2 separate regions of the Homo sapiens genome follow, and region 1 is linked to region 2. The links come from fine-mapping of genetic effects on gene expression. A gene starts in region 2. The other region holds a variant in brackets. All regions are shown on one strand. Distances are from middle to middle. Region 1 overlaps PRKAR1B (protein kinase cAMP-dependent type I regulatory subunit beta). Region 2 holds the start of PRKAR1B (protein kinase cAMP-dependent type I regulatory subunit beta).

What was found. PIP is the estimated chance that this variant, and not a neighbour inherited with it, causes the effect.
Region 1: its variant is fine-mapped to the expression of PRKAR1B in whole blood (TOPMed, PIP above 0.99).

What each region holds. Positions count from the first base shown.
Region 1 is chr7:618,089-623,457 of GRCh38, reverse strand. The region is part of intron 4 of PRKAR1B (protein kinase cAMP-dependent type I regulatory subunit beta); the gene reads left to right. Among named protein-coding and RNA genes, the nearest start is that of PRKAR1B-AS1, 18 kb to the right of the region's middle. The variant A/G (reference allele first, on the strand shown) is at 2,035.
Region 2 is chr7:724,986-730,354 of GRCh38, reverse strand. PRKAR1B (protein kinase cAMP-dependent type I regulatory subunit beta) reads left to right here and starts at 3,074. Exons shown (of 11, transcript NM_001164760.2): 1 at 3,074-3,145. DNAAF5 (dynein axonemal assembly factor 5) reads right to left here and starts at 3,656. Exons shown (of 13, transcript NM_017802.4): 1 at 3,040-3,656; 2 at 508-692. The coding sequence starts at 3,634. RefSeq lists silencers at 2,794-2,873, 2,914-3,023, 3,084-3,133, 3,384-3,583.

The DNA.
Region 1 (5,369 bases), 110 kb after region 2:
GTGATCGGTTCTGGCTGAACTGATTTGGCAGGATTATTTTACAAGGAAGTACAGATGGGCCTAGAAGAAGGTTCTGGAACCTGACTAAAGTTTGGCCAGAGAGAGAATTGTTGTTACCACATGTTTGTGGTTAGGAACCAGACCCACAGTCAAGAGTGTGGCCGAGGGTCCCAGGGGATTTGAGAACACCGTGCTGTTGGCACCCCAGCCGGGAGCAGGAGCTCTGCTTTCCATGATGCCAGGACTGAGTTATTGCTATTTAGAGAGAATTTTTTGGAAACTTGTAGTCAACAGAGTCACGGAACAAGCCTTCACCTAAACAGTGGAAGAGGCTAAACACAAGCCAGGATGCTGTGTCTGGGGCGCTGGGATCCCAGCAGATGGGAACCCTGGGTCTTGGGCTGGGACAGAAGAGATAGGACCGTGATGCCAGCACCCAGGGTCTGCCCAAGGGTTTAGGCCACTTCCTTTCCTTAAATAACATTGACCTAAGGTTTAAATCCGCAATGGAGAGAGGTTCTTCCCCAGCGAGGGCAGCATGTCTAGGTCTTTCAGAACCACTTCTAAAGGAGGACAGACTGAGCAGGCCACTCTTTCCCCCTGGATAGCGTCATGTTGAAAAACATAAGAAGTCAGAAAAACATATTAGTATGCGCTGGAACAAGTGTTCTGCCTTCAGCGGGGTCCTTTTTGGTAAATGTTCTGTTTTCTTCACTCATCATTCCCGTCTGCTCCTTGTCAATACACATATGCACATTCTCTGCAGACCTACTGTTGGTGCATATGTGCCTCTGTGTGTTCTGCTCTTTGACATCATGGGAGGGGGAATAACAACCCGTGTCCTGACTCTGACATCCCCCTTCCATCCCTAGGAAGGTTCAAAGATTTTCAAAATAGAGAGTTGAAAAAAACTAAAGATCAGACATGTTGGAAGTGCTAATAACTCAGTTTGCCTTCTTTATTACTGGATACGATCCTAGCACATTCATGTTCTCCCAGGTCAATGTCATGATGCTTTTGTTTAAAAGTCACAAAAATTCTTTATTTCTTTTAGCCTCAGGCAGACATTTCTAACATACAGAAATGCAGATTGTTGGAGCGGGAGGAGTGAGCGGGAGGCCCTGTGTGGCGCGGGGGTCCTTGCTGCCACCCCTCACCTCGCTGCTCTTCTGAATGCATGCCCAGCCTTGGCAGGCACCTGGTGCTCGGGTCTGAGGTGCAGCTTTGAGGGGCTGTGGGTGCCCATCCTTTCTGTTGTCCCCCTTAGGTGGCCTCGGCTCTGAGAACTGGCTGAACCTGTTTGCTTCAGCAGGTTTCTTTGCATGGGTGAGGGCGGGGAGGTGTTTACCTGTCAGGCCACCTCTGGCTGCAGTTCCACAATATATTAGCAATGTAAGCCAACAAAAAGGAATAAAAAAGCCAGAGTGGTGAAGAGACTGGCTGAGATCGGGGCATGGGCCGCTCCATTTGCATCACTCCTGGGGGATTCTGGGACATGTGTGACCCTTCTAGCAGCACTGGGGGAGCGGCTGCATGGGGTTTGGAACCAGCAGACACTATGGCAGCAGCTGCTGACCGTGGGAGCCCCTTATTCTGCTGAGTGCTTCACAAGCCTCATGATCACTGAGTCCTCCCTGCTGCTTTAGAGGCTGAGAGTGTTACTGTGCCCATTTTACAGATGGCTTAACTCTTCAGAAACTCAGTCCCCTGGGTCCCTCCAGGCAAGGTTGGGACTTGTACCACACATGATGAGGTGATGGCCAGGAAGCATCTGTCATGGGGATGACCCCACCTGCTGTGACATCACCCCACACAAGCATCTGTCACCACTGCTCAATAGTGAGCCCCTTAGGGAAGGGTTGCAAACTCGGGATCCTGGGGGTTCAGGAATTAAGTGGAAAACGTGGAGTCCTTGGGAATTGTGGCAGATTGGAGATGGTCATGCTCCTTCCAAAGTGGGGGTGAGCTGAATTCTTGCTTTGGGAGTACAAGGTCCCTGTGTTGTCAGACTTTTCTTTTTATTTTCTTTTTTCA[A/G]AGGAAAGCCAACAATTTGGATTTTATGAATTTTGTAAATTTTTAAATATTGGGAGATGATTTTGAAAATACCATCAACATTGGCACATGAATAAATAGAAAACCTGAAGAGATCTAGAAGCATTAAGTAAGTTGAAATGGTAACCAAAGACCTTTCCTCCCAAAGGGTTCTTTCTGATGGTTTCACTGGTTGAGTTCTTTCAAACATCAGCAAACTGTCTATTCTTACTTCTCAAATTGCTACAGAAAATAGAAAACAAGAGGAAGCTGCTAGATCATTGTATGTACTGTACTGTGATCAGGTGGAGATGATCCAGAATTCAAGGATGGTTCAACCTCAGAATACTCTATCCATGTAAATCACCATATTAGTAGATTGTAGAGAAAGAGCATGTGACATGTCACATAGGTGTTGGAAAAGGTTTTGACAAAGCTCAACAACTATTGCATAAATTCTTAGCAAACTAAGAATAGGGTCACTTCTTAACTTGGTAAAGGTCATACATACCCAACACAGAGCAAACATGCTAATGGAGAATCTTTGGCTACATGCTCTTTAAGGGAGGGACCACAATGAGGCTCTGATGGCTTTCATGGTTTAACTGTGCTTGGGAGGTCCCGGCAATGCTATAAAGAAAGAAAAATAAGAGGAGTCCTAATTGGAAGGGTAGAGAGAAGATGAATTTGATCATGTCTATGGAAACCAGCATAGAATACACAGAACAACTCTTACATTCTTATGAGTGTTCAGCAGGGTTGGTGCAAGCTCAACTTACAAAAATCATCATTAAGAAGCCCAAGGAATCCATAAATAAATATACACAATTTTTCTTTGTCAATTTAAAGAAAATTTAAAAATACGGATTCCTTCCCATCACAATGAAGATATTAAATCTGTCTCAACAGAAAGAAAGAGAGAAAAAAAAGAGCCCAAGGGGCTGGGTGGGTGCAGGGAATGAGAAAAGAGACACAGATGAGGAGTAACTGGAGAATAGAATTTGAAAGGATGCCATTCATGAGGGCAACAGCCACTGAGAAGTGGAATGTGCTTGACAACAGATTACAGAAGACTCTAGGGAGGAAGTTTTAAACCTCTATAAGGACATAAAACACGATCTGAATAGGGAGAGGCGGTCTGTATTCTTGGGTGGAATGACTCAACGTGATGATGTCATTTCTCCCTCACATTAATCTCTACCTTCAAAGCAGCTCCACTTCAAATTGCAGCTGGAATATTGTGAGGCAGTAAACACATTCGGAAATGTGAATGAGCTGGGTGCGGTGGCTTATGCCTGTAATCCCAGCACTTTGGGAGGCTGAGGTGGGAGGATTGTTTGAGCCCAGGAGTTTGAGACCAGCCTGGGCAACACAGAGAAACCCCATCTCTAAAAAAAAAAAAAAAAAAAGTAGCTGGGTATGATGGCATGTGCCTGTAGGCCCAGCTACTCAGGAGGCTGAGGCAGGAGGATCACTTGAGCCCAGGAGTTCGAGGCTACAGTGAGCTATGATCGCACCACTGCACTCTAGCCTGGGTGACAGAGTGAGACCTTGTCTCTAAAAAACAAACAACAAAACAAAAAACAAAACAACAGAAAGAAAAAGGAAAGGAAAGAATAAAAATTTGCAAATAACTAAGTCATCTTTGAAACAGAAGCACAAAGAAGAGGGACTTCTCCTACCAAGAGCTGAGGCTCAGCAGGAGGCCTTGATCATAAATGGAGCCAGGTGCCCTGCAGGAAGGGACGGCAGAACAATGGCGTGGGGCCGAGAGCTGAGAGGAGGTGCAGGCACACATGGGAGCTCCATATTTAATAGATGCAAGAGGTAGTTTAGTGCAGTGGTTAAGACAAGGACTCTGGAGCCAGATCACCCGGTTTTGAATCCCAGCACCACCATTCCTTAGCTGTGTGACCTTGGGCAGGTTCCTTAACCTCTCTGTGCTTCTGTCCTGCTCCCACTTGTATGTGAGGATAAGGGGAGTGATGATCATATATGCCACAAGGTTGTTGTGAGAATTAAATGAGCAACTGTGCGTAAAACACTGTGTTAGTTTCTAGGGCTGCCATAACAGAAGGACAAACTTGGCCTTAACAACAGTGATCAAGCGTCTCATGCTTCTGGAGGCCAGAAGTCCAAGCTCAAGATGTGGGCAGGGCTGGTTCCCCCTGAGGGCTGTGTGTGGGGATCTGGCCTGGCCTCTCCTTGGCTTGTAGGTGCCGTGTTGCCTCCCTGCTGTGCTTTCGTCCGACTCTTCGCTCTGCGTGGACACTGTGTTTTCCCTGTGTGTGTCCAAGTCTCCTCTTTTTATAAGGACACCAATCATATTGAGTTAGGGCCAACCCTACTCCAGTAGGACCTCACTTTTTTCAAGACAGGGTCTTGCTGCCAGTCTGTGGTGCTCTGTGATGGCAGCCCAGGCAGACATGTCGGAGAGTATTTCATTACTTGGTTGTGGGGAAACACTTTCTTAAACAAAACCCACAAAGCACAAACCATAAAGCAAAAAAGAGGTTACATCAGATGAAAGATGTCTACCTAATTAAGGACATCATGAAAAAGTTAACAGGTGACTGCGTGTAAGAAGATAGTTGCAATATCTAAACCCGACAAGCAACCGGTATCTAAAACACACAAGGAATTTCTGCAAATCAGCAGGAAAGAAGGTACCAACCCTTCTATCAAGATGGGCACAGGATATGAACAGGAAGTTTACAGAAGAGGAAACACAACCAGAGGAGAAGCCCTTGAAGAGCAGCTCAGAGCTTAGAGATCAGGGAAATGGAAATGCAAACAAAACGGCAGTTCAAAGCCGCAGCCCCAACGTGTCAGGCAATGTGGTGACGTGGGTAGATCTAGAGTATGTGGACTCCTTGAAGAAAAAGAAGAAACAGCATGAAATCTGCAGCAGGATACCATTTTTTGGTTAAATGCACATAGCTTAAGATTCTATGTTTTAAGAGAAAACATACAAACGAGAGGGGAGACCTCAAGTATCTTATAGCAATTGCCCACAGACCGAGAGGGCTATGGGAAGAGAGGAATAAATGTATAGGCAAAACAAGAACAGATCACAGAGCGGCATGAACTGAGTGCTCCATATTTACATCTGGGGTTTAAAGAAAAGATGTTGGAATAGGATGTCCCACGAAACACAGGTGTTGCCAAATGCATGGTCTGTGGGCCTGTCGGGAACGGCGGGGTTTGCTGCCCTGTGGCCCCAGCAGGACCCAGTCTGAGTGCTGTGGCTGCCTGTGAGCTGAGTGCAGGGATATGGGTGTGCGGGCTGTGTTCCTGGACCTTGCCCTGCCTCCACCTCTCCCACCCTCACTCCGGCA
Region 2 (5,369 bases):
GACATGCCCTCCAGGCCAGATTCTGCCAGCAGTAAAGCCAACACTCAGCCCCATCTGTAGGACTCCTGCCTGCCTGCCTGCCCGTCTCTTGGTGGGTTCCAAAGCCCAACGACATAATTATCCCCAACAAACCAACCCCGACTCCACTCTTCTCCCAGTCCAGGTCCACCAACCATGGTGGCTTTTCGGGAAAGTGCGTCTTGATGGATGGGAGCACTAAGGAACCTTCTGCAACTGCTGAAGTGCACACTGTGCCTAAGAGACAATAACTACACAAGTCATCCTTTCTAACATCCTTGGAATTCATAACATCAAACATTAAAACAGTTCAGCTCTCTTCTAGTTTTTCCAAGATGTGAACAGGAACGTCCTGTGACTAGGAATAATGAAAGGACATTTGGTGCATACAGCACTCTGAAAAAAGAACAAGTGAGTTAGTTAAAAACAGCACGTCAGCCCGCCTGTGTTGGAGAGAGGAACAGACTGTCCAGGAGAAACACCAGTTACCTGCGGGACGTCATCAAACAGTCGCTGAGCAAAATGGGAAAGCACGTCGTCCACGGACTTCCCGTTGCCAAAATGGATCACTGCGCCTGTGGCTTCAATGGCGGCCACACGGACCTTCCAGTGCTGGTGGGAGATGGTCTGCATCAGGGGCCCGATCAGAGACTCCGACTGCATGTGGAAGTGGTCTGAGGGACAGGGAGGCCCCCAGTTACCAGAGCTGCTCCCACACGCCTCGCCCAGCTCTGTGGGCTTCCAGAGGACGGCTGCCTGCCTATGAGTTCCTCACCTCCCTTCCTCTCCTACGCCAGGTCCTTGCTGCATGAACAGTACACAATCCAGGCTGCCAAGGAGAGCTCTGTACCGCCCGGCACAGGAAGAGGCTCAGGGACAAGCGTCCCACCCTGATGACACCTGTGCAACCCAGAGGCTTAGGAGGACCAGCGGGGAAAGGCTGGGGGTGCAAACCCATTGTGGCTGAAGACCAGAGAGCCTGGACCTGCTGAAGCCAAGGTGGAGGCCTGACGGGGACACTGGCCAGAGGAAAGAAGCCGAGCCCAGAAGACAGAGGCGAGGCCACACTCCCAGCCCCACCTGAGACGAGACCCCAGGCTCCTCCAGGAAGCTGGGCCAGCACCACTCCAGGCAAAGCCACTGCACTTCCTATTTGTAAAGTCCCCGCAGAAAGTCAGAACAAGAGGTGGCAGGCGCCTGTAATCCCAGCTACTTGGGAGGCTGAGGCAGGAGAATCGCTTGAACTCAGGAGGCGGAGGTTGCAGTGAGCTGAGATCGCCCCACTGCACTCCAGCCTGGGAGACAGAGTGAAACCCTGTCTCAAAAAAAAAAAAAAAAAAAGTCAGAACCAAAGGGTCTCTGGCATCCAGGCCGCCTCTTGCCTCAGCTCTGCACTACTTGGGGCCCGTCTGGGAAACGGCTATTCCAGTGAGACTTTGGGTGAGCGCCTCAACCTCTCTGCCGTTGCCCAGTGTGACCGAGACCAGAGGTGAGGCCCCCCACCCAGGGGAGAGGAAGGCCAGAGGTGCTGGAGATGAGGGGATGCTCCAGGCAGAGGCACAGTCCCTCACCCCACAGCAACCAGTGAGCACATACCCCAGCAGGCTGCGCTTGGGGCTGGGGCACAGATGGGCACAGTGCTGTCCTGTGGAACCTACGGTCCAGGGAGGGAGCTCGTGGGGCTGATGTACAGACTGGGTAGGGAAGTGGTTGAGGATGAAGAAGAAATACATTAAATGCCAGGAATTCTCAATGGCCATGTCCATCCAGCCCAAGGTTCTTCCCCAAGCTCCACAGGAGTTCTGGACCATGTGAAATCCAAAGTTAACCAACGTGGAAATCTCGGCATTTCCCCAAGTCCAGCTCTTCCTCTACTTCTGGAATCTATTCTCCACGCAGCTGCAGTGATCTTTTAACAACCTGAACTCGGGTCTATCACTTCTATTGACACCCCCTGCACTTCCCACTACATTCAGACCATCACTGGGACATCACTGGGACGGCCTGAGCTGGCCAGATCCCTCACTGCTTTCCTGCTCCCTACCGCCCACGGATTTATAGCATCAGTGTTCCCTCCTTCGGAAAGCCTTCCCGCCAGCAGGAAGCAGGCGCCTGCTATCATTCCACATCCCAGCCAGGGGAGGGAAAGGGCAAGACCCTGCAGGAATGGCCAGCTAAGGAAAGGGAACGACCGGATCAGATCAGAGCTCTAAAAAAGATGGGGAACGTTATAAAGTGGAGGGGAGAAGCGGCCTCCTTCCACTTAGGACAGTGGTCCAAGCCAGAGCGGAAAGGCAGGGGAGTAGGATGAATGGGACAGAAAGTGAAATGACCAGAGCAGAGTCTCAAAGCGCGTGCCCTCAACCAGGTGCAAGTCCTGCAAGCCCCCGAGGGAAGGAAAGGGGGCAGCTATCAGGGCACACCCCACCCCAAACCGCCTAACAGGAATTTCTGCGGTGGTTTCCAGGTATCTGGACAGAAGCGCTGGCTCGTGGGCCCGGGTGGGGTGGAGGGGGCTCAGGCAGGGAGGAGGGTGGGAGGTGAGGGTCGCGGGAGGGCGGCGTGCAAGGAGGAGGATGGCACAGGATAGGCAGGTGGAGGGGGCACAGGGAGCAGGCAGGTGGGGGGCGGGGCTTGGGGCGTGGAGGGTGGAGGCGGGGAGCAAGGGGACAGGGGAGTGAGGTGAGTGAGGGCCAAGCAGGAACAGGGGTCACGGGGCAAGGAGCACGTGGCAGCGCAGGAAACAGGTACATGGGGGTAGAGGACAAGGGAGCAGCTGAAGGGCGCGTTGGTGGCGGGACGTGAGGCAGGGGAAGCAGTGGTGGTGGGAGGAGGGGGCCGGGCGGGGTGCTTTGGGGCAGGCGGGTGGGGGAAGCGGCGCATGGGGGGTCCGGGATGTTGGGGGGTGCGGGCGTGGAGGGGGGCGGGGCCGAGCCGCGGGGGTTGTGAGAGGGGCCGCGGAGGTGGAGGTGGGGGTGAGAGTGTGGGGTGGCGTGTGGGAGCGGGGCCCGGGGTGCTCACCGGGCGTGGCCTGCGCCAGGGCGGCGGCGCAGCTGCAGCTCTCGCGGCGCACGGCGGCGAAGGGGTCGAGCAGGGAGCAGCGCAGCGCGCGCAGAGCGTCGTCCAGGTGGGGCGCGAGCGCGGCGCCGCACAGGTCCACGGCCAGGCCCAGCAGCTGCACAAGCGCCAGGCGCAGCTCCTCACAGGCCTCGGGCGGGCGGCGCGCGGGCACGGGGCCGGCCAAGCGCGCGGCGAGCGCGGGCAGCAGGCGCGGCAGGGCATCGCGGGGCCGCGCGGCGCGGCGCAGGCCCAGATCCAGCAGGTGCACTGCCAGCGCGCGGCAGCCCTCGGCGGGGTCGCTCAGGCAGCGCAGCAAGCGCGGCAGCAGTAGGCGCGCCCAGGGGCCCTGGAAAGCGGTGGGGTCGGCGGCAGGGCCTGGCTCCTCCAGCGCGCGCCGCAGGGCCTCCAAGGCGCGCCGCCGGCCCGGCTTGCTGTCGGCCTCCAGCCCCGGCAGCAGGCGGCTCAGGGCGCGGCTCAGCTCCACCGCCTCAGCCGTCTCGGCCCCCTCAGCCGGGTGTGGGGCCGCCACGGCCTCCGCCACCCCCAGCGCCGCCATCTTGCCCGCGTCGCCGGTCACTAAGGGGAACAGCGCTTTCGCGACTCTCAGCGCAGATTACGGCAGCACTTCCGGTCCGCGCTGCGGGCGGGGCGCCGGGCTACTTCCTCCCCGCCGGTGCGCACGTGGGCCTGTGCTCTTGTCGTGCTCGCCCGCTGTCCCCCTCTGTCGCCGGAACCCCCGCCAGCCTGCCTGCTGGGCCTTGTCCTGTCCCCATTGTACAGATGGGGAAGGTCTCGGGAGGGTGCAGCTCGCCCGGGATGCGGGTCCCGGGCTATAGGCCTGGGCCTGCCCCTAGGGAAGCCTGCCCTGCAGCCTAGGGGGCTTGGAGAAGGAACCTGAGTGGTCCCGCCTGGGACCAGGGTAGCCGGGAAGCCCCTGTTTGAGCCGCCTAGAGCCCCTCTGGCTTTGGGAAGGTCCGTTCCAGGAGGGAAGGACGCTGGTTCTGTGGACTGGATCCCCCTGTGGTGTAAGACAGGTGCCTGGTCTGGGCTTCACGTGCAGCCTGTCATTAGATCTCAGGCGTAGCCGCCCAATAGGTTCGCCTTACTCGCTGCCCAGGTAGAGCCAATTTATCAAGACAGGGGAATTGCAATAGAGAGTTTAATGCATGCAGAAACTGGCTGCATGCAGAAACTGGCTGCATGCAGAAACTGGCTAAAGGACACTGGAGCTTTATTGCTCAAACCAGGTTCTGAAAATCCTGAGATGGGTCATCTAAGGATAATTAGGCAGGTAGGGGGCCAGGGAGAGGGCAGTGCTTATTGGTCGGGTTGGAGATGAAACCATGGAGAGTCAAAGTTGATTCTCTTGCTGTCTTCTGTTCCTGGGTGGGATCACAGAACTGGTTGAGCCAGATTAGTGGTGTGGGTGGTGGCACCTGGTGCATCAGAATGCAGAGCCTGAAAAATATCTTGAGCACCAATCTTAGAGTTGATGATAGTGGTGTTATCCTAAGGAGCAACTGGGGAGGTTTGGAATCTTGTGGCCTCTAGCTGCATGACTCAAACCACAATTTCTAATCTTGTGGCTCATGTGTTAGTCTTACAAAAGCATTCTGGTCCCCAGGCAAGAAGGAGGTTGGCTTCAGGAAAGGGCTGTTATCATCTTTGTTTCAAAGTTAAACTATAAACTAAGTTCCTCCTAAAGTTAGCTTGGCCTACTCCCAAGAAATAACAAGGCAGCTTGGAAATTAAAAGCAAGACAGTGTTTCACAGTAGTGACCTTGACTGTGGACTTGAGTGGAGACAGAGGCGCCTAAACAGCTTGGAGTCGGAGTTGCTGTGAGCCCAGCCTAGAACGCGAGTTTGACAGCACTCACTGCAAACCAGGAGTCCCCAAGTCTGGTTAGCCAGGCACTTCTCATCTGTGACCATGCACTGAGTTTTCTAAAGGCAGAATGTGTGTAATTTTAGGACAGAACTTCAAGTTTGACCTTCTTTTTTGTTGTTGATCTTCGTGTTGCAAAATGGTGGTGTTTGTCGGTACGTCTTTTTTTTTTTTTTTTGAGATGGAATCTTGCTCTGTCGCCCAGCCTGGAGTGCAGTGGCGCGATCTCCGCTCACTGCAGACTCTGCCTCCCAGGTTCATGCCATTCTCCTGCCTCAGCCTCCCAAGTAGCTGGGACTGCAGGTGCCCACGACCACGCCCAGCTAATTTTTTGTATTTTTAGTAGAGACGGGGTTTCACTGTGTTAGCCAGGATGGTCTCGATGTCCTGACCTCGTGATCCGCCC